Homo sapiens: one gene and its partners. The protein of the gene in region 3 interacts with the protein of the main gene of each other region in a pairwise test. Each region holds a gene or a part of one and is shown on either strand. Other genes may lie near its edges.

The links.
Region 1: the proteins of PRPF18 (region 3) and NACC1 interact in binary tests that used the Homo sapiens proteins (3 or more experiments, as listed by UniProt).
Region 2: the proteins of PRPF18 (region 3) and EFHC2 interact in binary tests that used the Homo sapiens proteins (3 or more experiments, as listed by UniProt).
Region 4: the proteins of PRPF18 (region 3) and TXNDC11 interact in binary tests that used the Homo sapiens proteins (3 or more experiments, as listed by UniProt).

Annotation. Positions count from the first base shown.
Region 1 is NC_000019.10:13,113,392-13,121,279, forward strand, and holds the start of NACC1 (nucleus accumbens-associated protein 1), read left to right. Parts: upstream 1-4,872; 5' UTR 4,873-5,063; exon of another isoform or gene 5,064-5,334; intron 5,335-7,888. Other genes in the region: TRMT1 (tRNA (guanine(26)-N(2))-dimethyltransferase), read right to left, coding at 1,888-2,075, 2,235-2,377, 2,606-2,661, 2,755-3,008. UniProt on the Homo sapiens protein: Functions as a transcriptional repressor. Seems to function as a transcriptional corepressor in neuronal cells through recruitment of HDAC3 and HDAC4. Contributes to tumor progression, and tumor cell proliferation and survival.
Region 2 is NC_000023.11:44,340,649-44,347,505, forward strand, and holds the start of EFHC2 (EF-hand domain-containing family member C2), read right to left. Parts: upstream 3,025-6,857; 5' UTR 2,941-3,024; coding exon 2,899-2,940; intron 1-2,898. UniProt on the Homo sapiens protein: Microtubule inner protein (MIP) part of the dynein-decorated doublet microtubules (DMTs) in cilia axoneme, which is required for motile cilia beating.
Region 3 is NC_000010.11:13,603,941-13,610,964, reverse strand, and holds part of PRPF18 (pre-mRNA-splicing factor 18), read right to left. Parts: intron 5,335-7,024; coding exon 5,221-5,334; intron 927-5,220; coding exon 780-926; intron 1-779.
Region 4 is NC_000016.10:11,732,839-11,739,862, forward strand, and holds part of TXNDC11 (thioredoxin domain-containing protein 11), read right to left. Parts: intron 3,396-7,024; coding exon 3,179-3,395; intron 1,242-3,178; coding exon 1,144-1,241; intron 1-1,143. UniProt on the Homo sapiens protein: May act as a redox regulator involved in DUOX proteins folding. The interaction with DUOX1 and DUOX2 suggest that it belongs to a multiprotein complex constituting the thyroid H(2)O(2) generating system.

The DNA of each region.
Region 1 (7,888 bases), on a different chromosome or scaffold from region 3:
GACCTCAAGTGATCCATCCACCTCGGCCTCCCAAAGTGCTGAGATTACAAGTGTGAGCCACTGCACTGGCCTTGGTCATTTATTAAACTGCACAATTTTCCTACTTAGGAAAAGCACCATGTGGAACTCAGTCCACACATCTAAAACAACAACAATACTGATATAAGACGTATCTGCCTGACACCATTTCAAGCAGTTTATAGATGTATTAACACATTTTTTTTTTCCTTTCTTTGGAGACAGAGTCTCGCTGTGTCACCCAGGCTGGAGTGCAGTGGTGGGTTCTCGGCGCACTGCAACTTCCACCTCCTGGGTTCAAGCGATTCTCCTGCCTCAGCTTCCCAAGTAGCTGGGATTACAGGCACGTGCCACCATGCCTGGCTAATTTTTATATTTTTAGTAGAGACGAGGTTTTACCATGTTGGCCAGGCTGGTCTCGAGCTCCTGACCTCAAGTGATCCGCCCACCTCGGCCTTCCAAAGTGCTGGGATTACAGGGGTGAGCCACTGCGTCTGACCTCATTTTAAAATTTTTGTAGAGACGGGTTTCACTGTGTTGCCTAGGCTGGTCTTGAAATCCTGGCCTCAAGCGATCCTCCTGCCTTGGCCTCTCAAAATGCTTGATTACAGGCATGAGTCACCATGCCCAGCTAATTACTTTTCATTGTCTGTGATTACTATTTGGATTCTAGTAAGGTCAGAAAAGTAAAAACTTTTTTCTCTGTAAAAGGTCAGAAGGTATTTTAGGCTTTGTGAGTCATATGTGGTCCCTACTGCATAGTCTTCTTTTTTAACCTTTAAAAATGTAAAAAACATTCTTGGGTTGTGGGCCATTGATAAACTAGGCTAGGCCGGGCGCAGTGGCTCACGTCTGTAATCCCAGCACTTTGGAAGGCCGAGGTGGGCAGATCACTTGAGGTCAGGAGTTTGAGACTAGCCTGGCCAACATGGCAAAACCCTGTCTCTACTAAAAATATAAAAATTAGCCTGGCATAGCCAGGTGCAGTGGCTCATGCCTATAATCCCACCACTTTGGGAGGCCGAGGCGGGCAGATCACGAGGTCAGGAAATCGAGACCATCCTGGCCACCATGGTGAAACCCCATCTCTACTATAAATACAGGTGGGTGTGGTAGCAGATGTCTGTAGTCCCAGCTACTCAGTCGGGAGGCTAAGGCAGGAGAATCACTTGAACCTGGGAGGCGGAGGTTGCAGTGAGCCAAGATCACGCTAGTGCACTCTAGCCTGGGCAACAGAGCGAGACTCCGTGTCAAAAAATAAATAAATAAATAAAAATAAAAATTAGCCAGGCGTGGTGGCACGTGCCTGTAATCCCAGCTACTCGGGAGGCTGAGGCAGGGGAATGGCTTGAACCCGGGAGGCGGAGGTTGCAATGAGCTGAGATCGTGCCACTGCACTCCAGCCTGGGCAACAAGGGCGAGACTACATCTCAAAAAACAAACAAACAAGCAAACAAACAAAAAAAGGCTGTGAGCCCCACAGGCTATAGTTTGCCAACTCTTGCGAAGGTCACCAATTTTGCATGTTTTGTTTCCTGATGCATTTCCAGTTCTTGAAAACGGTGCCTGACACATAGCAGACACTGGATATACTATGGCTCATTTGAATGAATAAAAGGAGTGTAAGAAGTTAAAACAGAGACCAGGATGCTACTTATTTCTGGCACAGAGTATGGATCATACCATAATTATCTATTACTCATCACAGCAACCCCTGTAAAACTAATTTTCTCAGTTGACAGACAAGGAAACTGGGGCTCAAAGAGGCTAAGTCACTCACTCAAGGTCACAGAGTGAGAATGTGACAGAGCCAGAATTTGACCCCAGGCAGGCTTGTCCCAGAGCTAGGCTGTGATGCCCAGAACCTACCGGGCATCTGCTTGGCTCGGCTGTACCAGGTGGGCCACGTCATTGAGCTGGACATTCCGGCGTATGAGATCCACAGCCCGGGTGGAGGCATCGTTTGCAACCACAGATCTGAGCCCAGGCACCTCTAGGGCAAATCGAATGGAACGTAGGCCTGAAGCTGCCAGGCCTTCCAGCACATGCAGGCCTTCCTGTTGGAGTAAGCAGAAAACCTCCCTCACATCTCCACCTCCATCCTCTTCTGGGCCCCAAGGAGCCCCCACCACCCACCTCCTATAGCTCTCCCCCTCCAGGAGCCCTCTGTCTCCCGCTAAATTCCAGGGCTGCCAGCTCCTATGCTCAGGCCCCACCTCACAGATCTCCCCCACGGCCGCTGTGCGAGGTTGGTCTCCTGAGGCCAGGTTTTCACTCTCTTTCAGTTCAACCTTTTCCTCCTCTTGCTCTGACAAGTCCACGACCACTTTTTGCGTGTCCTTCTCTCCTGGAACCTTGACTGCAGCCACCCAGAGGCACAAGTCAGAGAATAACAAGGTCCCCTCTGAGAAACCTCCCCTTAATCTCCAAAATATCGTCCCTGAAATCCCTGCGGAAAGGCTGAAGGAGCAGAACCCAGGGCCTGCTATGTGGCTGAAGCCCCTCTGGATTTGGGCGGCAGAAGAGCCCAGGCAGGGAGATAAACTTGTGTGACCCCCGCCCACCAGAAGCCTGGACCTCCACTCACTCTGGATTCCTTTGGCCCCAAGCTGAATGCGAGCAAACTCGGTGATCACAGCACATCTGGTGGGAGACAGAGGACTAGCTCATACCCCGCCCCCGCCATCCACACTGACCCACTAGCCGATGCCAGGCTAACGTCTGACCCCTGCTCACGTCAGGTCCCGATTGAATTCCTGCACCGGGTTATAAAAGACCTCGTTGGCACTGGGAAAGGCGATTTTGGCAGCCCCCTCGGTGACTGTCGTCTCCTGGACTTCACGTGGACGTTCTTCTCCGTAGGGCCCGGTGCCGTTCTCCATCGCTGCTGTATTCGGCAGCCCTGGAGACTGCCACTCGAAAAACCGGGCTCTAGAGAGCACCCGGGCGGAGCGGAAAGTGAGGCTTAGCCACAGAGACGATCCTTGCATGAGACATCCGCTGGCGCCTCCGCCCGCCAAGCCTGGTTCGGGGGGCGGGGGAGGGCACAGAGAGGGTCAGAGAGCCGCATTCCGGGCCCGGGGATGTCCTACATATCTATGAGGTAGGGACTAGGAAAACCTGCGGCCTCGGTAAGCTGATATCCCCTCGTTTTGGGGATGACTGGTCCCTGTGGAGCCGATGCCCTCGTGCAGGCCCGCCCCGAGTCCGAATCCCTCCCCGCGCTGCCTAGCCCGTCCTCACCTGCTCTCGTAGCCACAGAAAACCGAATTAGTCAAGGTGCACGTTTCCCGAATTAGGACCTGGGCGCCGCCATGTTGGCACAGTGGGTGGGCGAATCACATGATAGTGGTTGGCCAGTCAATGAGGAAACGTACGGTGGGCGGCCGGGATCAAAATGAAAGCCATAAAGGAAGCGCGCTGATCGTGCTGTTCCGGGGGTGTTAATCACAGTGGATCCCCTGGGAGAGGACACGTCCCTAGTCCCATTTCACAGATGAGGAAGTTGTGGCTCAGAAAAGGGGCGGTAAGCGGAGAAACCCAACACTTATTGGTCCTCTTCTGTGTTCTGGGTGCTATATACACATTATTTCAGAGCACCCTGCAGGAATGACTCAGGCTCTGGAGTTGGATTTACCGGGTTTGAATCTCAGTCCCATCACATGCTCTGGGCAGGTTACTCCCGCGGCTTCACTTTTCTTACCTATTAAATGAGAATCGTGGTTTCTCAGATAGAGCAAAGATTAAATGACAGATTCCTGGAAAGTGTGCAAAGAACCACTCTAACATTGTAAGCGCTCGGTAAAGTTCTAACCAGTGTATGAAGGCAGGACAGCGAAGTGGTCCCGGCTACCTGGGTTCCAGTCTCAGCTCGCCCTGCGACTTGTTAACTCTGAACTTAAGTTACCGCTTTTGCAAAATGGGCAGAACTTTTTTTTACCATTTGTTACTGGGTTGTAGTGAGAAGTAAACGAGTTAGTGCAGGTAAAATGCTAACAGAACCTAGCATCCGGTAAGCATCATAAAAGTCTTAGGTCTTATTGTCGCTTTTGAGCCTGTGTTTAAATCCTGGCACCTACCATCACTTCCTTGCTGTGTGATGATCTTGACCAGCTTTCTTCATTTCTCTGTGCCTCCTTTTCTTTCTTTCTTTCTTTTTTTTTTTTTTTTGAGACGGAGTCTCGCCCAGGCTGGAGTGCAGTGGCATGATCTCGGCTCACTGCAACCACCGCCTCCCGGGTGCAAGCGATTCTTCTGCCTCAGTCTCCCGAGTAGCTGGGATTACAAGCGCATGCCATCACGCCCGGCTAATTTTTGTATTTTTAGTAGAGACAGAGTTTCACCATATTGGCCAGGCTGGTTTCGAACTCCTGACCTCAGGCGATCCACCCACCTCGGTCTCCCAAAGTGCTGGGATTACAGGCGTGAGACACCGCGCCCAGCTGCCTTTATTTTCTATAGTGTGTCTGTAGCAGTTCTCACTAAAAAATGTTACTGTGTAGTTTAAACGAGCTAATTCCCATAAAGAATGTAACGCAGTGCCTGCCACAATAAACAGCAGTCATTATTGTTTTTGTTTTACAGGAAACTAAAGTTCGGAAAGGTAGAGCGACTTGCCCAAGGTCGCGGGACTAGAAGGTGGCGGGGCCAGGATTCGAACCATCGAGCTGAGCCGACGTACTGGCGAGGATCCCCCAGGGGCATAGAGAGGAGACGGAGCCGGTTAGAAGGGGCGCGCTCGGAGCTCGGCTGGCCTCGCCTGGAGGGCGGGGCCCGAGGGCGGTGCGCGGGCGGGGCCGGGGCCGCTCCTCCCTGGCCTGGCTGCGGCGGCAGCGCGGCTTGCGCTCGCTCGGCGCTCGGCTGGGGCGGCCTGGCCCACAATGAATGGCCGCCGCGGCTGCCGCTGCTGCTGAGGCGGAGGCCGCGGAGGCCGCGGAGGCGGAGGCCGAGGCCCCGGCGCAGCGGGGCGCGCCCCGGGCCCAGGCCCGGCCCCAGCCGCCGCTGCGGAGCCCGCCGGGACCCCCCGGAGCGCGGCCACGGCGCAGGTGAGGCGGCCCGCCTCAGGCCCGGTTCCGGCCTCCTCCAGCCGGGGCGGCCCGAGGGCTGAGTGGGGAGGGCCTGGGTGCTTTCTCGGACCGAGGAGGAGCCGGGCCCGCAGCCTGCACTGTGCCCGGGCAGGCGAGTGTGTGGAGGCCCAGCTACCGCGGGCGGCCTTGAGCGTCCAGCCCGAGCTTCAGGGCTTGGGGGCGGCAGGATCGTACCTGGACCGCTCCCCCGTCTCCCAGCGAGGGAGGGGGCCAGGTCGGGCCGGGGCAGGTACCGGGGATCCGGGGAAGTTGGAGGGTCCGAGGCGGAAAAGTGAGGAGGTTCTCGTGGATGCCGGAGGGGGAGGGGGAGGGGGAGGAGGAGTCGGGCTCCGGCCAGGCCGAGTGGGGGAGGAGAGGAGAGCGGCGCGGCCGGAGGGGGGCGGGGAGGGGCCGGGCCTGCAGGTACCGCCTGGGCGCTGGAGGAGGTGGGTGGGTCAAGTTACAGGCCTGGGGGCGGCTGAGGAGAAGCCCAGGAAGTGGGGCACGGCGGGTGTGGGCGGAGTTACTTCGTGTGGGGGCGGATAGGAGATCCCAGAGATGTTTTCCGGGGGTCACATGAGGTCAGGACTCAGATGTGGGGAGGGGGAGGCTAGATGTGGGGGCGATCAGGTAAGGTGAGGGACTGCTGTAGGAGTTTTGGGAGTCGAGAGAGCAGAGCCTTTTGGGCTAGGCTAGGGGGGATGTGGGGGCAGGTCAGGAAAAGCTGGTGTGACCAGAAGGTATATACTAAGATGCGCCCCCCACCGCCCCCAACTCAAGTGTTAAGGGGTTCCGTCTTTCTCACACCTCATCCCTGAAGCCTCTAGAGTCCTGACCCTACCCCTTGGGCAAGCCTCTGCCAACTGTTCAAAGGCACTGGCCAGTGGGTGTTTGTGTGGGCAGCTGGAGACAGTCTGGAACACCTAGCTTAGGCATCTTGTTTATCACAAGGTGGCCCTTGCCCACCCCCACCTTATATATCTACAGGGAGGCAGCCCAGCAGACGTTACCTGGGTATTTTAGGATCCTGCATTCTTTCTCTACCTTTTGTGGCCAGAAGCTGGTGGTTCAAGCCTAGTGGATGGGACCTCACAGCAACCATCGTATATATTAGTACCATGGCCTCCCAGGCACCAACTCCTTGAGCCTGAGTTCTGTGTGCCATCTCCCTGGGGGTGAAGAATTAGAGGGAATGAGCATGTAAAACTCTGTTGATGGTGGTTTGGAGGCTCCCGACGGGGTGAAGGCAGGGCACAGAGAAGAGTTAAGGGGATCAAATCAGGCACTCACACCCTGGCCCAGGGATCTACCTCTGGGACACTCGTCCTGGGCCAGGCCCTGTGCCGAGCTCGCTGGTCGGATGAGCTCATTGATGGCTCACCACCACCAGTTCAACTTAGGCCTTCTCTGGGGTCCAGACGAGGAAGCTGAGGCTCGGGGTGGTGTGGCTTGTCTCAGATCACATGAGCAGACAGTGGCTGAACTGGGATTGTCTGACCCTCAGCCCAAACCCATAGTCACTCAAGTGGCCTTCCAGGAGGGTGACTGAAGGAGCTCCTCGTTCTGGATTCCCTGGCGGGCGTTCTCCTCCGTCCAGGCCTTCCCTTCTGCTCACCCCGGGGGATGGGTCAATCCCCTTTGGGACAGACTGAGTTTCCATGGTGTCCCCGGGGAATGGAACAGTGGAGGTATCTTTCTCGGAGGCCTGGTCACCCCTTCTTCCCCATTTCCCTCCTGGGAGCCAAGAGGTCAGGAGTCATGGAACTGTGGGCTGACCGTGGGAAGCTGAGGAGGCCTGGCACCACCAGGGCTGGACTTGACTTTGCTTGCCTAGACTGTTTTTGCCCCACTTTGGCCCCCAGTCGGATGGCAGCAGCTTTTGTTCCTTTCTGGGCTAATTGCAAGGCTGTTACCAGGGTGTCCTTGGGACTTTGATTTGGGATCTTCAGCACCTGAGGCAGGAGCCACAAACTGCTGGGTCAAGTGGTGTCAGCCAGTTCTGGGTTTAATGATGGGTTGTCACCCTAATTCTCCCCAGTCTCCCTATAGTTCCCAGGACACCCTCCAACCTGGGCCCTGCCCTTCTTGCCTGTCTGGCTAGCCACTTGGTTCTAGGAGGAGTAGGAACTGGGCCAGCAGTCCCGCAAAGAGACTGAACCATCCTTCCTGGCTGGTTGGGCCAGGATTGCTGCAGGTCTGCTTCAGCACAGACTGGGTCCTCCTGGACCTAAGCTGGGTTGGATACCAGGGATAGGGGATTGGTGGTACCATCCAGTCACTTAGCTGAGACTGTTGGGAGTTGGCCCTGGTGAGTGGGGGACAGGCAGTGCCTCAGGCAGCTCCGGTTTGTGCCTAGAGGTAGAGGAGAAGGCACCAGTAATAACTGCTTTTCGGTGAGAACTTAGCATGCACAGACTCTGTGGGGGCAAGTGCAACAAGTAGGCAGCCCGTTGAGACAGTTTTATTTCACTGCTGGGTGCTGACTCCCCGCTGGGGGCTGGGGAAGCATCCCGGAGTAACAGATCCAGAGCAGCTAGCTCTCAAGCGACCAAACTTTCACAAGCAAAGGATCAAGATAATTTCACATACTTCTGTGTTTACAAAGATGGTGTAGCAAAGTGAAGTCATTATGAGCCATGAGGGGATGGGGAGGTTTCGATGGGTGGCCGGAAGTGTTCCCGGAGAGCTAAGATCTGAATAATAATGTTAGCTAAGGGGTGGGTGGTGCTGGGGCGCAGGGAGGGGTCAGTGTTCTAGGCTCAGGGGACAGCACATTCACAGCTTTTCTTGAGTATGTACCAGTC
Region 2 (6,857 bases), on a different chromosome or scaffold from region 3:
ACTCCGTCTAAAAAAAAAAGCAGTGACCAATAAATGGTCATACAAATGACCAACAAACGTGTAAAACATGCTCAATTTCATTAGGAATCAGGAAGTACAGATTATAACTACAAAGAGTTGCTATACCCACCAACCAAAATATCTAAAATTTAAAAGACTAACAATACCAAGTGTTAGAAAGAATGTGGAGCAACAGGAACATAAAATGCTGTTGGGAATTTAAGTAGTATAATCACTTTGACAGCATCTACTACAGCTGAACATACGAATACTGTATGATCTAGCAATCCTACCAAAAAACATGAACAAAAATAGTCACAGTAAAACTATTCTTAACAACCCCAAACAAGCCAAATATTTATCAAGAGTAAAATGTATATATAAATGATGTGAAAAACATACAATGCAATACTACAGAGTAATAAAAATGTACAAACTACCTCTATAGACAGCCACATGGACAAATCTAACGAACATACTGTTGAGCTAAAAAAGCCAGTCACAAAAGAATAAACACCAAACATTTCCATTGATAAAAGGTTCAAAGGCAAGCAAAACCTAATTATAGTGATAGGAGCCAGAACAGTGGTTATATCTGGAGAGTAGAGATGGGGTAATGAACAGAAAGGTTCATAGGTAGAGTTGTCACATAAAATACAAGATTCTCAGTTAAATTTGGTAAACAATAAATAATCCTTTCCCATAAACAGGTTCCATGCAGTATTTGAGATATGTATTTTTATTCGCTAAATCTGGCAACCCCAGTCAAGGGTGGTATTTTTGGAGAACAGGTCATATTTTATTTTATTTATTTTTTTGAGACAGGGTCTGGCTCTGTTGCCCAGGCTGGAGTGCAGTAATGCAATCATGGCTCACTGCAGCCTCGACCTCCCAGGCTCAAATGATTCTCCCACCTCAGCCTCCTGAGTAGCTGGGACTACAGGCATGTGCCACCACGCTTGGCTAATTTTTTCAATCTTTTGTAGAGATGAGGTCTTACTATATTGCCCAGGCTGGTCTCGAACTCCTGGGCTCAAGGGATCCTCCCATCTCTGCTTCCCAAAGTGCTGGGATTACAGGCGTGAGCCACTGCGCCCAGCCCCCATATTTAATTTCTTGATATTCATTTTGTGATCATCCATTGTGCATCTTTCTGTATATGTGTTGTACTTCATGATCTTAAAGTTTTTTAAAAAGCAAAAATATACGCAGAACCTTGCAGATTTATTAATATTTCATCCATCCACTGTTTTTCCTTCCCATCCTTAATCACTGCACGTGAGAGCTATGATACTTCTGCAGGAGGCAGGCACTGGTAATCAGAGTGTTGCTGGGCAAAAAGCTGTAGGCTTTACTTTCATTTTTTATTAAAATTACTTTTACACAGCATGCTTCTTTACTTCTGGAATCTGTTTTCATGTCCCGTCTCTCAGGGGCCTTTCTTGTTTGCGTGACTGGCTTAAACTTACCAAAGGGCAATGCTATGCTGGAAGGCCAGCCTCTGCCCATCAACCAAGAAATGCACAAATCAGTGTTCAAAGTTGGACTGACCAGACGTGTAGGGGTCAGAATTCAATGGCGTGAAGCTACAAAGAAAAAACTTGTACTTCAGGGCCAACAACTTAGATACAGACAGTGTTTGGAAACCATAAAGCCAAATACTTCAATCTGCTGCCTGCTTTCTAAAGTTATCAAAGGTTTACACAATTGCCTTGAGTGGCTCCATCTAATTCCCTCCCATCTAATTGGGAATTAGCTTCTCCTGCAGACACAGATGGCTGACCCAAGTGAAGGGTAGTAACCAGTATAAACAAAAGCCTGAATCATTTTCCTGCTGTCGTTTAAATGAGGTGCTATTTATTGGCAAAAGTTCTTTCATGCTCAGGGTTTTTTGTGTTGTGTTGCTTTGTTCTGTACGTTCATCTTCTTTTGAAATGAACCCCTCCAGGACAGGCGCAGTGGCTCAGCCTGTAATCCCAGCACTTTGGGAGACCGAGGCGGGCAGATCACTTGAGGTCAGGAGTCCGAGGCCAGCCTGGCCAACATGGTGAAACCCCATCTTTACTAAAAATACAAAAATTAGCCGGTGTGGTGGCGGGCGCCTGTAATCCCAGCTACTCGGGAGGCTGAGGCAGGAGAATCGCTTGAACCTGGGAGGTGGAGGTTGCAGTGAGCCGAGATCGGGTCACTGCACTCCAGCCTGGGCGACAGAGCGAGACTCCGTCTCAAAAAAAAAAAAAGAAATGAACCCCTCCCAATTATAAATAGAGAAAAAAAAAATCCCTCCAAGTTTGGGTGCCTGTCTCTATAAAGTTTGGGAGTAAACTTTACAGGCTGATAGAACTCTTATCTGCCACCTACCCCTCTTGATAAGTGCCAGATTTCTTCAATTTGATAATTGAAACGGTATCTTTTTTCACACAGGATACTGGGGATAATGATTAGGCTCCTGAGCTGTGGAGACAAGGTTGCTTGAAAGAAACCCAGCTTCACCACTGAGACTGTGTGGTTCTGTGCCTCAGTTTCCTCAATAGTAACTGGGAATAAAAACTACCTAATTCAAAGGGCTGTTGGGACACTGGATGCTGCATAAGGTGATTAAAGCACAGCGCCTGGCACACATTAAACCCCCAATGGTTATCGTCACTATTATTTGTTACCTTTGAGGGTCCTGCCACCTATAAGGACTCTCTCTATATATTTCTAAATTAGGAAAAACATTCAGATGCAGCTGGAGAGATGGGAGAAGCAGCCTATAAAGTTTGGTCCAAGTTGCCACCAACCCAGGGCAGCAGCATGGGGCCTCCAGGAGAGTCTGCGGAGGTGGCCACGCCACGACCCTGCCTGGACCCCAGACTCCAGCCGGGAGCTGTGACCTCGGACGCCCTTCCTACTCACGTTGCGGTTGAAGCTGTTGCCCGGCAGCAGAGGCAGGGCCATGGCGCTCAGTGTCCGAAAATCCAGGGTCCCAGAAGAGAGGGCCCGGCAGGCAGCGGCGCCTCCCGGCCGTGTTGTTTGGCCCCCACGTTGCCTGGAGACGGGAAGCGGCGTCACGGAGGGAGGAGGGGCGGGGGGTTGGCGAGAAGGATCGTGGGGGGCGGGGGACACCTCCGCGGCGCGTACCTCCTCCCCAGCCCCAGTTCCCCTCCACCCGCTTCATCCCCGCACACACTCAGCCAGGTCCTGGTCTCCTGAGGAGTCTTCTCTCTGCACACGCAGTGTGCACACACAAAGATTGACTGTTCCCTGCCCCCGCCGCTTTCTGGTTTAACCCCCTTATAGAACTCAAAGCCTTTCTTGTACTTTCTTGCTTTTCCAATTCTTGTCGCCAACAGTTTTTTGCTATGTGGTTCAAACACACAGCAAAGTACAGAAAGTAATATGACGCCCGTGTGCTCACTGAGATGTTACACAAGTCGATATTTTCCTATGTTGCATAGACATCAGCTTTTATTTTGTAATTAAAACGTTCAAGATGAATCTAAAGCCACATATACCCTGACGAAAACGCGTTGTAATGGTAACCACCGCCTTCAGTTTTTCTTCTGGATATTTTTATATTTGTTGTTTGTTTGTTTGTTTGTTGTTTTAAGACAAGGTCTCACTATGTTGCCCAGGCCGATCTCGAACTCCTGGGCTCAAGCAGCCCTCCCGCCTCTGCCTCCCAAAGTGCTGGGATTACAGGTATGAGCCACCGTGTCCGGCCCATTTTTGTATTTGAACTAAACGTTTGTAAGGCCCAATCAGGGGTGGCCGGGGCGGAGTCAGGTGTCACAAATCGCAACCCCTGTCACTCCATCGTTCACCCCAAGATAGCCGGGCCAGGAACCTCCTCTCCCGACACCTACGTCTAATCCCTCCCTGAAGCCCTAAAGGTTGGACTCGATGCTCTCTCTCAGTCACCACCTCGTCTATTTCAGCTGCGATCCCATTGTTTCTTGCCTGGTTTTCTTCTTTAAAAAGAAAAACAAACACACACAAAAAACTAACTGATCTTGCCTCCAGAGCCGTCGTTTTTATAATTCATGGTGCAGCTGTTACTCTTCTGCTTCAATAATCTAGCCTTCCCGCCGCCTTCAGAAGGTGGTGAAACTCCTTATAGCCTGGTCTGAGGAGCTTTTGTCAGAGGGCACCTACCAATGCCCTCCATCCCTTTCTTTGCCCCCTCCTCCATCTACTCCAGCTCTGAGAAACCACTGGCAGTTTCTAAATCAGGCTCTGCGGTTTCTCCTCTTGGGGCTTTTGCAAATAACACTATCGTCTAGAAACACCCTTCCTTCCTATCTTTCACATAAGTAACCCCTTCTTGTCTTTCAGGACTTGAGGCCAGCGTGGGAGTGGGGCATAGAAGGTATTGCCATTTCTTCAATATATTCTTTCACCTTCTTCCTGCCGCCTCCATCTGTATTTGGTGTCTATTCTGATCGTGGCTTTCATCCTACTACATTGTAATTACCTGTTTACTTGACATTTCTTTAAATGCCCCCAAATACCTCCAGGGCAGGGACTGTATCTCCTTTTTTATTCATCAACAATATCCATTATTGCTTCTGTGTTTATAAATTTTACACTCTAAATTTCTGCTACTTGCTTTTTTTGCCTGATTCTGTTATTGAGGCCAGGCGCGGTGGCTCATGCCTGTAATCCCAGCACTTTGGGAGGCCGAGGCAGGCGGATCAAGAGGTCAGGAGGTCGAGACCAGCCTGGCCAACATAGTGAAACCCCGTTTCTACTAAAAATATTAGTAGAATATTAATATGCTACTGGGAGGCTGAGGCAGGAGAATCGTTTGAACCGGGGAGGCTGAGGTTGCAGTGAGCTGAGATTGCTCCACTGCACTCCAGCCTGGGCAACAGAGCAAGACTCTGTCTTGAAAATAATAATAATAAAATTCTGTTATTGAGATTTCTACACATTGACACATGTAGTGTTCATTAATTTTAAACGCATTGTATGATTATACCACAAATTGTTTAACTATCTGCTCTCATCTGTTGATGACAATTAGATTGTTTCCAATTTTCCACTAGTTACCAACAATGCTGCAGTGAGCGACTCTGCCTGTTCCTTTGGCAATGATCTAGGGCACATACTGAAAGATGGAATTACGTACATATCTGAGTGCATGGCTTCATCTTTACTAGATTTTGCTAGATGATCTACAGACAGATAAACCAATTAAGAAAGTCCCCTTCCCCGTTCATCCTTTCAACAATAGGTATTACCAAATTATATAATTTTGGATAATCATCTGAATAAGTGTGAATGGTATACTATTGTTATTTTAATTTGTTTCTCCCTAATTCTCCCTAAGCAGTTGGTCATGTTTTCCCATGGTTGTTACTTTCTCCTGTGACTCAGCTATTCATATCCTTTGCAGATTTTTCTCTTCGGTCATTTGTAGTTTTTTTTTTTTAGATAGATAGATAGATATAGAGATATTCTGGATACTAATCCGAGGCATAGCAAATATTTTCTCATTGTCGTTTGTCTTTTAACTCCACTTATATAGAGTTCTTTATTGTACATAAATTTGTTACTTTACTCAAATATATCATTCTTTCAGTTATGGTTGGTGGGTTTTTTGATTTATTCTACTTTTTATTTTTTGAGATGGAATCTCACTCTCTCACCTAGACTGGAGTACAATGATGTGATCTAGGCTCACTGCAACCTCCGCCTCCTGGATTCAAGTGATTCTCCTGCCTCAGCCTCCTGAGTAGCTGGGATTACAGGCATGCACCACCACACCTGGCTAATTTTTGTATTTTTAGTAGAGACGGGGTTTCACCTTGTTGGCCAGGCTGGTCTCGAACTCCTGGCCTCAAGTGATCCACCCACCTTGGCCTCCCAAAGTGCTGGGATTGCAGGCATGAGCCACTGCACCTGGCCTGTTTGGTGTTTTGTATGTGAATTCAAAAATCTTATACTACTCCAAAAGAACAGTTATTCTCCTACATGTTCTTACAAACATTTTTAAAATTCCCTGTTGCTTTTTAAATTGAAATAATTTCAAGCTAGTAAAAAGTTGCAAGAACAGTCCAAATAACTCTCATTTATCCTTTCCTCAGATTCCCCAATTGTTTTATATTTTACCACATTAATTTTGTCATTCTCCCCATATATATCTTTTACATTTTAGAGTTAAGTTGCAGATATCATGCCCCTTGACTCCTAAATACTTCAGTGTGTATTTCCTAAGAATAAGGACAGTCTCTTATATAACTGAAGTGCAATAATCAAAATCAGAAATTTAATATTAATACAATACTGTTTTCTTTTTTCTGAGACAAGGTCTCACAATGTTGCCCAGGCTAGAATGCAGTGGCATGATCATGACTCACTGCAGCCTCCACCTCCTGAGCTCAAGTGATCCTCCCACCTCAGCCTCCCAAGTCGTTGGGACTACAGGCATGTGCCACCATGCCCAGCTATTTTAATTTGTTTTATTTTTTGTAGACATGGGGTCTCATTATGTTGCCCAGCCTGGCCTCGAACTCCTGACCTCAAGCAATCCCATCTCGGCCTTATAATACTATTTTCTAATCTAAAATACATATTCAAATTTTGCAATTGTACCAATAATGTCCTTTTTTTTTTTTTTTTTTTGCAGACAGGGACTTGCTGTGTCACCCAGGTGCAATCACGGCTCACTGCAGTTTCTACCTCTTGGGCTCAAGCGATCCTCCCACCTCAGCCTCCCTAGTAGTTGGGAATACAGGCACACACCACCATGCCCGGCTAATTTTTTTTTCTTTGTTGAGACAAGGGTCTCACTATGTTGTTCAGGCTGGTCTCAAACTACTGGCTCCAAGCAATCTTCCTGCCTTGGCCTCCCAAAGTGCTGGGATTACAGG
Region 3 (7,024 bases):
CATGATACAAAATTGCTTTTTAATTAAGATTATACACTAACACTCCAAAAGCAGCACTATAGCAAAAATCAGACAGCAAGATATTGCCAAGCGTTGGCAGGGCTGGAAAGACAGGGGACCCTCACACTGCTGGGTGTAGACTAGGACAGCCATTCCAGAGAGTAACTTGGCAGTACTTAGACAAGTTAAATATACATATATAAATCCCACAATCCCACTTTGCTAGGCCATCGTGGTTATGCACAAGACTGTTCATCAGGAAGCTGTTTGTGGTAGGAGAGAGCTGGGAACAATCTAGCTGTCCATCATTACCGGAGAACAAAAAGTCAAATGCAGTGAATGGCGTAACACATGGAATCCTATGTAGCAATTAAAAGCAAAGGATTCAGTGTACACAGAGCATCAAGGATAGCTCTTAAAAACATAGTGCTAACTGAAAAAAAGAAAAGTAAAACACGGAATAAAGAATTTCACAGCATAACATCATTTATGTAAATCAAAAATACATGCTCACAAAACACTGCAGGTCACAAGAGCACCAACAAACAGAAAGATGCATATCCAACATATTAGAATGGGTTCCTTTTGAAGGCAGGAAGTAGGGGAATGTGAGTGGAGGATGAGAAAAAGGGGAGTAAATAAATAAAAGCGAGGAGTAAATAAACAAAAGACCAAGGACAACAGTGTGCTCTGCCCTCAACAATCTGCCCGACTCAGTCATCTGCTCCAGAGGAAAAAGAAGGGTGCCAGGGATGTGCTGGGCTTGGTGTAGAGATTACCTCTAACTCTTCAATTGTGGTGTTTTCCTCATGAACTTTCAGATCATTCTGTGTGTCTTCCTCTCCAGGCTCCTGACCGCCGACGATTTCATTGAGGTACTGCTGATCAATCTTATCCAAGGCTGCTTTCAAATCATTCCTCAATCCCTAAGAAAAGCAAAAAAAGGAAGAACACCTGTTATGAAAGGAAGAACACCTGTTTTTTCACCTTTGATTTTTCATTAATAACTGCAAATATTTTTTCCCCCACAAGAAGAGTTCAGCAAAAGTAGGGACTCAAATCACATCAATTTATCACACAACTATCACTACTGTCCATTTAAAGTTAATTCTTACGGACCTATTTAAATTAAAACAATGCACAAACAATGGCCAGTCTGCTGGTCAGAAAAATAAAATACACGTGAGTGACAAATCCAAGTAAGAATCTTCATCAATGCTGTAATTTTCTAATGAGGCTTAGTGACAGTGGCAGGTCTCCATTAGAGTCCCCAACCCGTTTGCCCAGCTCATTTACAATGTCTAACCTCAACTACTGTGAACTCCCAAAACATTCAGAAACATCAGTGTAATAAAATTGGTGCCTCATCTATATCCCAGGTTCTCAACTATGTTTCTAGCAAACCAGCAAATTCGCATTTTATGCACATATGGTTCATGACCCTTTAATGAAAATGGAAGCCTCATCTTCCTAAAAATGAATGAGAATCAGCTGCAAGGTTTAAGAGCCAAGGAAACATGGCTGTGAGGCGGCTATAGGGTAATGGTTGAGAGTAAAAGCTATCTGGGTTCAAATCCTTGCCACATACTATTAAATAGCTCTTTGAAAGCTTGCTTAACCCCTGTGTGCCTCAGTAGACTCACCTACAGAATAGGAGTAATGGCACCATCTACTACGTAGGGCTGTAATAAGGATGCTATTTTTTATTTCAGTGAACAGTTACTATGTGATGCAGCTGTTCCAGAACCTCGCAAACATCAAGTCACGCAAGTAAGCTAAGAAATGGACGATGAGCTTTGAACAGTTACTGGAGCACGGTGCACATTCAACCAATGTTAACTCCTAACGTTCTCACACAAAAAGCATCTGATCATTGTCTCCTGTCCCTTCATAAACACAGAAGAGAAACATTCAACTCAAAACACTTATAATTTCTCAAACACTGACTGATCACCTGCTGTGTAAAAAGTATGACGCCAGGCATTCCCAGAGGTCACCTCATCGAATTCTCAGTGCATCCCAGTGAGCCAAATATCACTGCCTCTGTTTTACCAATGAAGATTCTAAGGTTCAAATAGAGTAAAAGACTTGCCAACGGCCAAATAATTGATTACTATAATCCAGGAATGGAATCCAGACCTTGTGCTCCTGTGCTTTGTCCTCAAAACCTCTAGATGCACGGCACAGGACTTGGCATACAAAGGTAAAACAGCCTTTGCCCACCAGGAAGAGATAAATATGCACATAACTCTAATAATAGCGAAAAACAGTAAGTACACTAACAAAGGTTTACTCATAGGCACATGGAGAAGGAAGCAATTAATTCTGACTGGGACCAAAAATAGATTCCGAGAGAAGATGTGGTCACTGAATTGCATGTGAAAGTATAAAAACAAGATTTCAACCAGAGCATACAAGGCAGAAACACAGCAAGCAAAGGAAAAATGATCATTACAGACACAGAGGACTGAAAGCAACTGCTAGTGTTGTGGGGCTGGAATGACAATGCTGGGAAGTAAAGCAGGAAAGTGGTTTGGCAACAAAGAAAGCAGTCAGACAGCCCAGGCTAGCAGACAGAGCAGGTCGGGGAGCGGGCCTGGCCAGCCCCAGCTGTTCCTGCCATTCCAACTGAGACGCCAGGAAAGGGGCAAGATATCAGCTTAGAAGACCAGTCCAGAGGCAGCCTCACATGATTTCGGCCGCAGCCTTCATCTGACTGCAATCACAATAAAGACCCCAAGCAAGATACTGCTCAATCCAGCCCAATAAAACCACAGAACTGGTAATTATTAAGACAATAACAAATTATCTTAAGCTATCAAGTTTCAGGGTGGCTTGTTAATCACCAAAAACAGATTTGGTAATGATAAATCCTTTATAATAAATAAACAAACACTAGTAAGTTTTGGAGTAGTCTGTTACATAGTCATAGGTAACCACACCTGTCTCTCAATAATTGAGAAAGCAAGTAGATAAAAAGTTAGCAAGGCCAAAGAAGATCTGAACAACACTATCATCACTGACATTTGTAGAACTGTACCATGAAAGCAAAACAATACTCTTTTCAAGAGCCCATGGAATAAACCATATGCTAAGCCATAAAACAAGATCAGAGCCTTAAATGTAAAGCAAAAACTATAATATTAAGCTTCTAGAAGAAAATTAAGAATATATATTTGAAATCTTGGGATAGGCAAAGATTTCTTAAGCAGGACACAAAAAGCAATGACCATAAAAGGAAAAAACAATAAATTGGACTTCATTAAAATATAAAACTTCTGGCCCGGGCACTTCGGGAGGCCAAGGCGGGAGGATCCCTTGAGTAGAGGAGTTCAAGATCAGCCTGGGCAACATGAGGAGGCCTCATCTCTACAAAAATTAAAAAATCAGCCAGGCATGGTGGCACACACCTGTGGTCTCAGCTACTTGGAAGGCTGAGGTGGGAGATCGCTTAAGCCCAGGAGCTAGAGGTTGCAGTTAGCCATGATCATGCTGAACTCCAGCCTGGGTGAGAGTGAGACCCTGTCTCAAAAAGCGTGTGTGTACACACACACAAACTTCTGTTCAGCAAAAGATTCAATTAAGAGAACAGGTAAGCCCTAAACTACAAGAAAATAGTCACAAAAAATATTCGTATATCTGACAAAGAACTTCTATCCAGAATATACAAAGAATTCCTATAATCCATTTACAAAAAGACAAGTTTATTTTTAAAATGAACAAAAAGCGCCTGTAATCCCAGCTACTTGAGAGGCTGAGGTGGGAGGACTGCTTAAGCCCAGGAGGTTGCAGCTGCCATGAGCCATGATTATGCCACCGCATTCCAGCGTAGGTGACGGAGTGAGACTCTGTGTCAAAAAAATAAATAAATAAGGAAAGAAAGACTTTAACAGACACTACACAAATGAACACAACTTTATGAAAAGATGCTCCTCATCTTTAGTCATCAGGTAATGTGATTAAAGCCGCAAAGAGCTACTACCAGACACAAAAGAGAATGGTTAAAATTAAAAAGACTAACAATACCACATGCTGGGGTTTGGAAATGACTGGCATTTCTTATGAAGTTAAGCATACATCTACTCTTATTATCCAGCAATTCTACTTCTAGGTATCTCCCCAAGAGACCTATTTATTTACCCAAGAAAAATAACATAGTTCCAAAAAAAGATCTGCATAAGAATGGTCATAGCAGTTTTATCCCTGTTTTTTTTTTTTTTTTTTTTTTTTTGAGAAGGAGTCTCACTCTGTCGCCAGGCTGGAGTGCAGTGGCACAATCTCAGCTCACTGCAACCTCCACCTCCCGGATTCAAGTGATTCTCTTGCCTCAGCCTCCCAAGTAGCTGGGAATACAGGCACACGCCACTACGCCCAGCTAATTTTTGTATTTTTAGTAGAGACGGGGTTTCACCATGTTGGCCAGGATGGTCTCGATCTCTTCACCTTGTGATCCACCTGCCTCAGCCTCCCAAAGTGCTGGGATTACAGGCTTGTGCCACCACGCCCAGCCAGCAGTTTTATTCCTAATAGCCCAAAGCTGGAAACAAATTTTGATATATTCATACAACTGAGTATCACTGGAAAATGAAAAGGAAACCAGTGGTATCTGCAATAACATGGATGAACCTAAAAACTGATATGCTGAGCGAAAGAAGCCAGACACACAATCTATGAGTCCATCTGTATGAAATACAAGAACAAGCAAAATTAATCCATGATGACAAAATTCAAATGGTGGCTGCCCAGGAAGGGATGAGGAGAAATATGAGGATAGGCTGAGAAGGGGTACTGGGGAAATTTCCTTTTTCTCTTTTTTTTCAACTTTTAAGTTCAGGGATACAGCTGCAGGATGACAGGTTTGTTACATAGGGAAACGTGTGTCGTGGTGGTTTACTTCACAGATCATCCCATCACCCAGCTATTGAGCCCAGCATCCATTCGCTATTCTTCCTGATGCTCTCAGGGAAATTTCTTTGGTGACGAAAATGTTCTATTTCTTTATAAGGGCAATGGTTATATGCTTGTATGTATTTGTCAAAATGCATTAAATGTTATACTTAAGATATGAGCTTTTCAAAAAATTAATGAAAACTTCCATTCAGCAGCAATAATCTGCTCACTTTACTTTTCCATTGTTGCCTACAATAATGCAATTAGTCAAACTCTATTCTAGTGAATGCAGTACAGTGGTATTTTTCTAGCTTTGTTCTGTCCTCTTACCTTGTTAACTTCTGGTGTGAGGATCTCTATTTTCCTTAAACGTTGAAAAGCATCATAATCAGTCTCTCCAAATAGTCTGATTGGTTCTCCTCTTTCTCTCAATCTTCTGATGACCTACAAAGTGAAACAGATACCCAGTAAATTTTTTTTTTTTTTTTTTTTTTTGAGACAGTCTCACTCTGTTGCCCAGGCTGGAGTGCAGTGGTGCGATCTCGGCTCACTGCAAGCTCCGCCTCCCAGGTTCAAGCGATTCTCCTGCCTCAGCCTCCCGAGTAGCTGGGACTACAGGCGCCCGCCACCACACCCAGCTAACTTTTGTATTTTTAGTAGAGATGGGGTTTCACCATGTTGGCCAGGATGGTCTCAGTCTCCTGCCCTTGTGATCCGCCTGCCTCGGGCTCCCAAAGTGCTGGGATTACAGGCGTGAGCTAATGTGCCCAGCTATTAAACTTTTGAGAGAGGAAAAAACTAAACATCTCAAAAACAATTTGTATATTGTACCTTAAAAGCCAAGCCTGGGTTTAATAAAAGCTAATTATCCAAATACATGCCTCTGTGTAAAGTATAAAATCCTTCAAATATTTTAGATCATTTCAATTAAGCTAAACAAAGATGTTTCCAAATCAAAGAGAAAATCAAGTACTTTAAAAATCTATTTTGACTCAAAAGTCACTGTTATTAATTTTATCACTGAACAGCTCCTAGAAAGTGGTCTGACCTATGACTCTACAATTCAAGTCTAAAGAAAGACCCTAATATAAACCACCTCTTTTACTGTGAGATTTTTAAAAAATTCTTTTTTGTAAGAAAAGGGGCATGTCTGTGGCCCTCATTTTACATAATTATAACTGTTCTTAGTCTTCTTTTAAAAACAATGGAAAGACAATAGTAATCCCTTATGTCAGCATATTTTTGGTGATCAAACACTTGTTTTGAAATGTAGATGAAAAAAGTAATCTGTTTATTCTTTTAATTTTCCATAAACAGATATACTGTGTTACCATCACACCTTAAGTAACCATAAAGTTTAGGTCGTTTAGCTCACTGCTTCGATAGGACCAATCTGTGTGGCAGGACACACAGGAAAAACACTAAGATGGGAGGGAATGACAGCATTTATAGAGAGAAGGAAAATCAAATCTGAAGCCAGCTGATAATTACCATAATGGACAGTCTGCATTGTAATACCACCATGAAACCAAAAACTTCTCCCTCAGAAAACAGGGAGTTATAATCTGCATATGCAGAGCTTTTAAGATGCTGAAAATCTATTTCCAAACTTGGGTGATGGTTACATGAATATTTATTTTATAATTATTCATATATGTGTAACAAACATATATTGCCCTAACATGGTTCATACACTTTATATACATGCTATGTATGTCATTTTAAAAAGGAAGAAAGAAACAGAAAACGTAATAAATACTAGTCCAAATTTTTTAAATAAAGCAATAATGAGAAACACCAAGAGCTTTACCTGGGAGCATAAATAGCATCACACCTAAAATCCATTGAGAGGGCTCCCAGTGGATTAACAGAAGTTTGAGATTAAAACAGAAATTTAAGAGGTCATCTAGTGCTATCTCCAATCAATGCAGAAATGACCTCACAAACACCCTTGTCAGATCCCTGGCTGACAAATGGCAGGAATCACATTTCTTCGTGAAACATCCCATCCCATTGTTTAGACAGAGATGTTTTGCTTCTCAAAACTGAAATCTACTTCCCCCAAACTTCTACCCATTTATCCCAGTTCCACTTTATGAAACTACAGAGAATATTCTGATTTTCCAAAATCAGA
Region 4 (7,024 bases), on a different chromosome or scaffold from region 3:
CCATTGATTATGGCCCAAGAACTTTAGAAGGAAAAAGGAAAGCTCTCTACTGATCAAATCTCCTTTACCCATTTTACTTTCAACAAACTTCAAGCCAATCACCCTGAACAAAGTCCAAAGTCCTATCTCCTATCTCCAAAACTCTTTGAGTCAGATTTTTAGACATTACTTATCATTCACAGCAGGGTCTGGGCTGTACTCTAGTACAGCCTAGGTCGAGACCAGCCTGGCAACATGGTAAAACCCCGTCTCTACTAAGAATACAAAAATTAGCCGGGCGTGGTGGCAGGCACCTGTAATCCCAGCTACTCGGGAGGCTGAGGCAGGAGAACGGCTTGAACCCTGAGGCGGAGGCTGCAGTGAGCCGAGATTGCACCACTGCACTCCAGCCTGGGCAACAAAAGCTAAACTCTGTCTCAAAATAAAATAAAATAAAATAAGATAAAATAAAACTCTTTCCGTTTTTCAGCCCTCTTTGTGACTTTAGAATTGTGGACATGGGCGGTAAAACCCTGTCTCTACTAAAAATACAAAAAAAATTAGCTGGGCAGGGAGGTGGGTGCCTGTAGTCCCAACTACTTGGGAGGCTGAGGCAGGAGAATGGCGTGAATCCGGGAGGCCGAGCTTGCAGTGAGCGGAGATCGCGCCACTGCACTCCAGCCTGGGCAACAGAGTGAGACTCCGTCTCAAAAAAAAAAAAGAATTGTGGACATGGGACTGTGTACTTGTAGTAATTTTCTTCCCAATAGAATAGATGGTAAGATACACTCTGGACTCTGCTATGCCTCCAGATGAAACGATAAGAAATTTTGTGTATTTTTACAAAACACTCTTACGATATCTGAAATGCATTGGAGTAATTCGTACTTTTAAAAACAATGCTGTAAAATGTGTAATGACATGAAAAGATGCTCAAAAAAGTGAGAAAAGCAGTTTAGGAAATAGTATTACTGCCTGATCCCATGTTTAGCTTTAAAAAGGGGGGTGGATTATCCAGATCTTTCTTTTTTAATTTTTGCTTATCTGTATTATCTGAATTTTCTATAGTGAATATCTAATACTTTAATATAGAAAAAATGCAAAATTCATTTATAAACTGGCAAACTAAACTGGAATGAGAGACGCTATTTAAAAAGTTCTTACCTCCGATGATACAGATATATTACAGGAAAATAAAAGAAGTGTTTCTGTTTTCTGCATTTCCCCTGGTTCCACCAACAGTTAATTGCCACAAACAACACCTGCAGAGCCAAAAAAGGTTTTCAAATGACTATGAATAACAACTGAAAAGTTACCAAGATTTAAAAGATGAAATTTAAAAATAGAATGATTCCTCTCTCACTGAAACAGAAACTATGAAAAAAACTGTTTTGAGTTTTCAAAGGTCATAATTTATCACTAAAACAAAAAAGAAAGACATACTCTTATCTATGATGTCCAGGCAGGACTTGGACCGTGTTTACCAATCTTACCATGCAATACAGTTCAAAAGATTTCTGTGTGTTTCCAAAAATAAACCCACTTTTTTCCCTACTGAGTACATGGAATAGTAAGCTCTCAATTTGGAAGGAGCTGAAATTTTTTTTTTAAAAAAAGCAGCAGTCCCTGGATTGCACTACAACCCCCACCACTACGTGATGGTAAACAAACTGCTTCACCCCTTATGCCTGCAGTCCTGCTTCAGAAAAACAGGGCTGACAGCATCGCCTTGCAAAGTGGTTGAGAATTGGCATGGGGCCTGGCACACCAGAATATCATTATTATTATACTAATGCCATCACTCAGAAGGACATACTGCTTAGGCTGACAGTAAGGTAGCTAATTCACACTTATTAATAAAACACAATAGATATCCCTCTTGTGCCCAACATGGGCAACGTGAACTTTGTTCTCTAAATTTGGAAGGCTCCACAGTTTCTAAGAAAAACCAAATGACAGTTCCAAATGAACTTCTGGAACTCAGCTGCCTACACACGTTACTTCACATCAGTGGTTCTGAGCAGGAGAGTCTTAGAAATCTGTGGGATGCTTTTGGCTTGCTACAATGACTGGGGGAAGCTACAGTGCATACGTAGGGCAGGGGTGTTGGTAGATGTCCTGCTACACTCAAACCTGCTTTGCACACGGAAGAGTCGTCCATAGCATTCCAGAGGAGTTCAAAACGCCTGCCAAACACTGATGTTGGGGAAAACCTGTTATTATCAAAGCCCAGTACCTAGCTCCATTTTACATGTGAATCTAAAGCATGCTTTTTGTGTTCACTGAATTTTTCAGGAATGCAACTTCTATGTAAACTGAGAGCAGAAAGGGCTTTGCATAGTTCAGGATTTTACCAAGACTGTTCACCATTTAGGATAATCAATTACTAAGAGCAATGTCCATGTGGCAGGTAAGTCACCAACATATCACCTTTATCAGTCTACGTTTGTAACTATCCCATTCAGTGATTCTACATAAAGGTATATGGACCTGTTCTGACTGTGCACTTACATACTAAAATATATATCATTTAGTTACAAATTACTTTCTTCCCCCCTCACCTCTATGTTACAATCCGTGCATTAGATTATTTTGAAATTACATGTATAGGAAAACTTTATCATCTATGAATTCCTTTTTAGGAAGAAAAAGGGACATCATAAAATACTTATTTTCTAAAGCACAACTGGGGTCCACTGGGCTGAAAACCACTGCCATAACAGGTGACTTATTTGCCTATATATCTTTCTTACCTAGCCCAAAGGTGGCATTCCTTATCTGCTGAATATAGTTCTGGTCCATATATTAAAAAGGTCGGCCTTGTTACAATGCAGTCATATCATACATACATTTTCTTACCTAAAATACCTAACTAGCAAGTATCAAATGGATATGCAAGAACTAGGATTTTCAGTCCCTCTACCTTTTTCAATGCTGAAACCAAACAGTATGGCACCCCAGGATAAGCATTGGCTTGTGTTATGAGATTCAGAATCTGCTCCCACACTTGCCTTGGAGTACAATCGCCACAATTGGAAATCCTTTCTGTTGCTTTATAGAAAGCTCTGTAACTTAGAAACGACTCCTGGAGTTCACCTTGGCAAAGTCTGCCCGTTGGGCAAGGTGTCTCTGTGGGGACATCCTGCCCTACATATAGGACTGACAGTCATTTGATTCTTAAGCTGAATGTGAGCATTACCTGATCTGAAAGCCGACTTGCTGCTTGCTCAATTTCTGCCCTGGCAGCGATGGACTGTCCACACCAAGGGGCATAGAAGAAGAGCAGTACCACCTCTGAATCCCGTCGAACGTACTCTGCATAATCCAGCTGCCCCTGGAAGAGGTCAAGGACTGGAGACCTCAAGGAGAAAAAGCTGACAGGTGGCTTTGCTGGTATTATCACATCTTTTGCTCGACTAAAAAAGAGCAAACACAGAAAAGATTGCTTAGTTTATCTTCTTCTAAAAATAGCTCTGTGGAAGTAGAATGAAGCTTAAAAGGAAAATCCTCTTTTGAATAAGAAAATGGAGTCCCAAAATCACTGCCCTAGAAAGGCAACATCTGGCTGAGCAAATGCAAGACATGAATAATACGTTGGAAACAATTCTCTGAGATTCTGTCCCCTAGGTGTAGGCTGGAAGGGCAGTGGAGAGCAGAGAAGGATGTCTCTGAATAATCCATATTCCTGCTCCCCACATCCCAAAGACTTCATCCTCCTTTTTCTGCAGCCTGGCTCTCCACAAAAGCCACTTATCTCCAGGGCTTTAGAGCCACCAGCATGCAAGCTCAGAATTACGGTGAGGGAGCATGTAAACTACCATTAACAAGATTTCCACGGGAGATGCTTACAATCAACTCAACTTTGAGAAAACATTAAGCTTATTAGCTGGAGTTGGCTTGTACTTATCCAGGGCATTCAGGTAACAGTAACAATTAAACAATAATATACATTCCTCCAGATATATATCATAATCCTAAGACTAATGAAGATAAGTAACAAAGCAACAGCCTATTTAACTGGAAAATGGGCTTTTTGAACACTTGAGCTTCCCACAAGAAACAGATCAGGAGGAAAAAGAAAAGAACGCTGAACAAACAAGTGGTCAGAAGTAACTTTCCCCATCAAGACCTAAAGATCTAGGCCCAGGCTGCATCCCACCAAGTAGAAGGGCCCTAGTAAACACCCTGAGCTGTCCATGCATCTACACTCACATACCACAAACCATTAGGGCAGCTTTGCTAAGAAACAAATGAGACCCAATTATGCACTATCTAAACGAGATAAATAGAGAACATAAACATGGAAACCTAAAACGCGATGAGATTAACCCCAAAGAAAGTAAAGGAGACCAGGCGTGGTGACTCAGCCTGTAATTCCAGCACTTTGGGAGGCCGAGGCAGGCAAATCTCCTGAGGTCAGGAGTTCAAGACCAGCCTGGCCAACATGGTGAAACCCTGTCTCTACTGAAAATGAAAAAGTAGCTGGGCGTGGTGATGGGCGCCTGTAATCCCAGCTTCTCGGGAAGCTGAGACACAAGAATCGCTTGAACCCGGGAGGCGGAGGTTGCAGTGAGCCGAGATTGCACCATTGCACTCCAGCCTAGGTGACTAGAACAAAACTCCATCTAAAAAAAAAAAAAAGAAAGAAAGTAAGTAAAGGAACAAGAAAAGAACAAAAGCCAGACGGTACAAATGGAAAACAAGGAGCACGAAGGTAGACTTAAACCCAACTACCTCAACAATTACGTTAAATATAAAAGGAGAGGCCGGGCGCGGTGGCTCATGCCTGTAATTCCAGCACTGTGGGAAGCCGAGGCAGGCAGACCACGAGGTCAGGAGATCAAGACCATCCTAGCTAACATGGTGAAACCCCATCTCTACTGAAAAAAATACAAAAAATTAGCCGGGCGTGGTGGCACATACCTGTAGTCTCAGCTACTCGGGAGGCTGAGGCAGGAGAATTGTGTAGGTTGCAGTGAGCCAAGATCATGCCATTGCACTCAGCCTCGGCAACAGAGCGAGACTACGTCTCTCAAAAAAAAAAAAAAAAAAAAAAAGGAAGCAACCTAATTAGGAGGAGCAGACTGCCAGACAGGATAAAGCAAGACCCAATTATGCACTATCTAAACGAGATATATCTTAAATATAAAGACACAGGATAAAGGCATAAGGATGGGAAAAGAAAAACTATGTAAATAGTGAGCATAAGAAATCTGGCATGACTCATGAGGTAAAATGATAAACTGGGGTATATTCTTACCCATTTACTTAAATGTTACTCCACAATAAAAACGAAAAGCAAAACCTATTCATATGTACTATAACTTGGATGAGTCTCAAAATGATTATGCTGAGTGAAAAAAGTGCTAAAGAGTACATGCACTATGACTGCATTTATATGAAATTCCAGAACAGGCAGAAGTATCCAACGGAGCAAGTCACCTATTTATTCACTCAAACTAATATTTTAACCTTCAATCAGAGAGCTTTCAGTCTATGCAGAATGCCTTCATAACCTGAAAAAATCACTTACACAATTATTCAAAAATTCTTTACTGAGCAGCTGTGACTGTGCTTTGGGCACAAGCACTAAGGCTGCGGCAGCTAGCACTGCGTGTTGTCGAGGAGACCACTTTCTAGGGGAGGAAGACAGGAAAAACATCAAATGTGTAAACAATAAAAATATACTAAATGCTCACTATGTGAAAAATTTAACAAGGTGATGTACAGAAGGGCATGGTAGCTCCTCTGATGGAGTGGTGGCTTGGGAGGTGCTATAATTTAAGCTCTGAGACCTGAATGACAAGAAGATAGCCACCTAAGAGGTGGGGAGGGCACTACAGGAAAAAAAAAAAAAAGACACGTTTTCAAGAGATCCAAAATTCTGCTCTTTGGAGAAATTACTTTTCTACCATTCAAACTGCACATGGCCAAGAGTCGTGGCTCACGCCTGTAATCCCAGCACTTTGGGAGACAGAGGCGGGTGGATCACATGAGGTCAGGAGTTTAAGACCAGCCTGACCAACACCGGGAAACCCCATTTCTACTAAAAATACAAAATTAGCTGGGCATGGTGGTGCACACCTGTAATCCCAGCCACTTGGGAGGCTGAGGCAGGAGAATCGCTTGAACACGGGAGGCGGAGTTTGCAGTGAGCCAAGATCACGCCATTGCACTCCAGCCTGGGAAAAAAGAGCAAAACTCCATCTCAAAAGAAAAAAAAAATGCAATGTAAGCATCAAATAATGCAATCTGAGGAAAAATGTAGGTCTGACAGTCAACGAAAGGATAAAGAGCAACTCAGTAATTTTGCTCTGCATATTCAGAAGCATTCCTAAATGAGCCAGATAAAGTACAAGGCCAATCAAAAATCAAATATTGGCCAGGGAGAAGAAACGCTCGCCTCTACTCCATCAGAAACACTGGTGAGTTTCTATTTAACTCATCAATCTGCTTCACGCTTTAGAGAAACTATACATAGAGCAAAGATTTCCTGCAGCTATGAGGGGTATGTCTCGGGTACAAAAAACTCGAGTTGGTTGCAAATAAGAAGGCCTGTTGTTGCTGAGCCAGTAGCATGTGCCTATAGTCCCAGCTACTATACTCAGGAGGCTAAGGCAGGAGAATTACTTGAGCCCAGCAGTTTGAGGCTGCAGCATGCCATAATTGCACCTGTGAATAGCCACTGCACTCCAGCCGGGGCAACATAGAAAAAAGGCCTGTTGAAACCCCAATTTTCCTATGAAATTCACACCCTACATCACTTCCTTGCAAAGACCATTCGAGGCAGCTTTGAAATTACAAAATGGAATAAAGCAAAATAAATACATGTATACATACATATGTATCTACACACAGACAATTTTTTTTCCCTCTAAATCAAGGTAAAAGAAAGGTGAGCAGGATGAAGAGACACAGGTAAGTAAAGATTAGATGCCCAGAAACGCACGATTATTCACTGTGGCTCAACCTCAAATCAACCTTTTCCATATTAGCTGGTTTGAATTCAGCCAAGCCACAGACATTGAAAAGAGCAGACATTTAT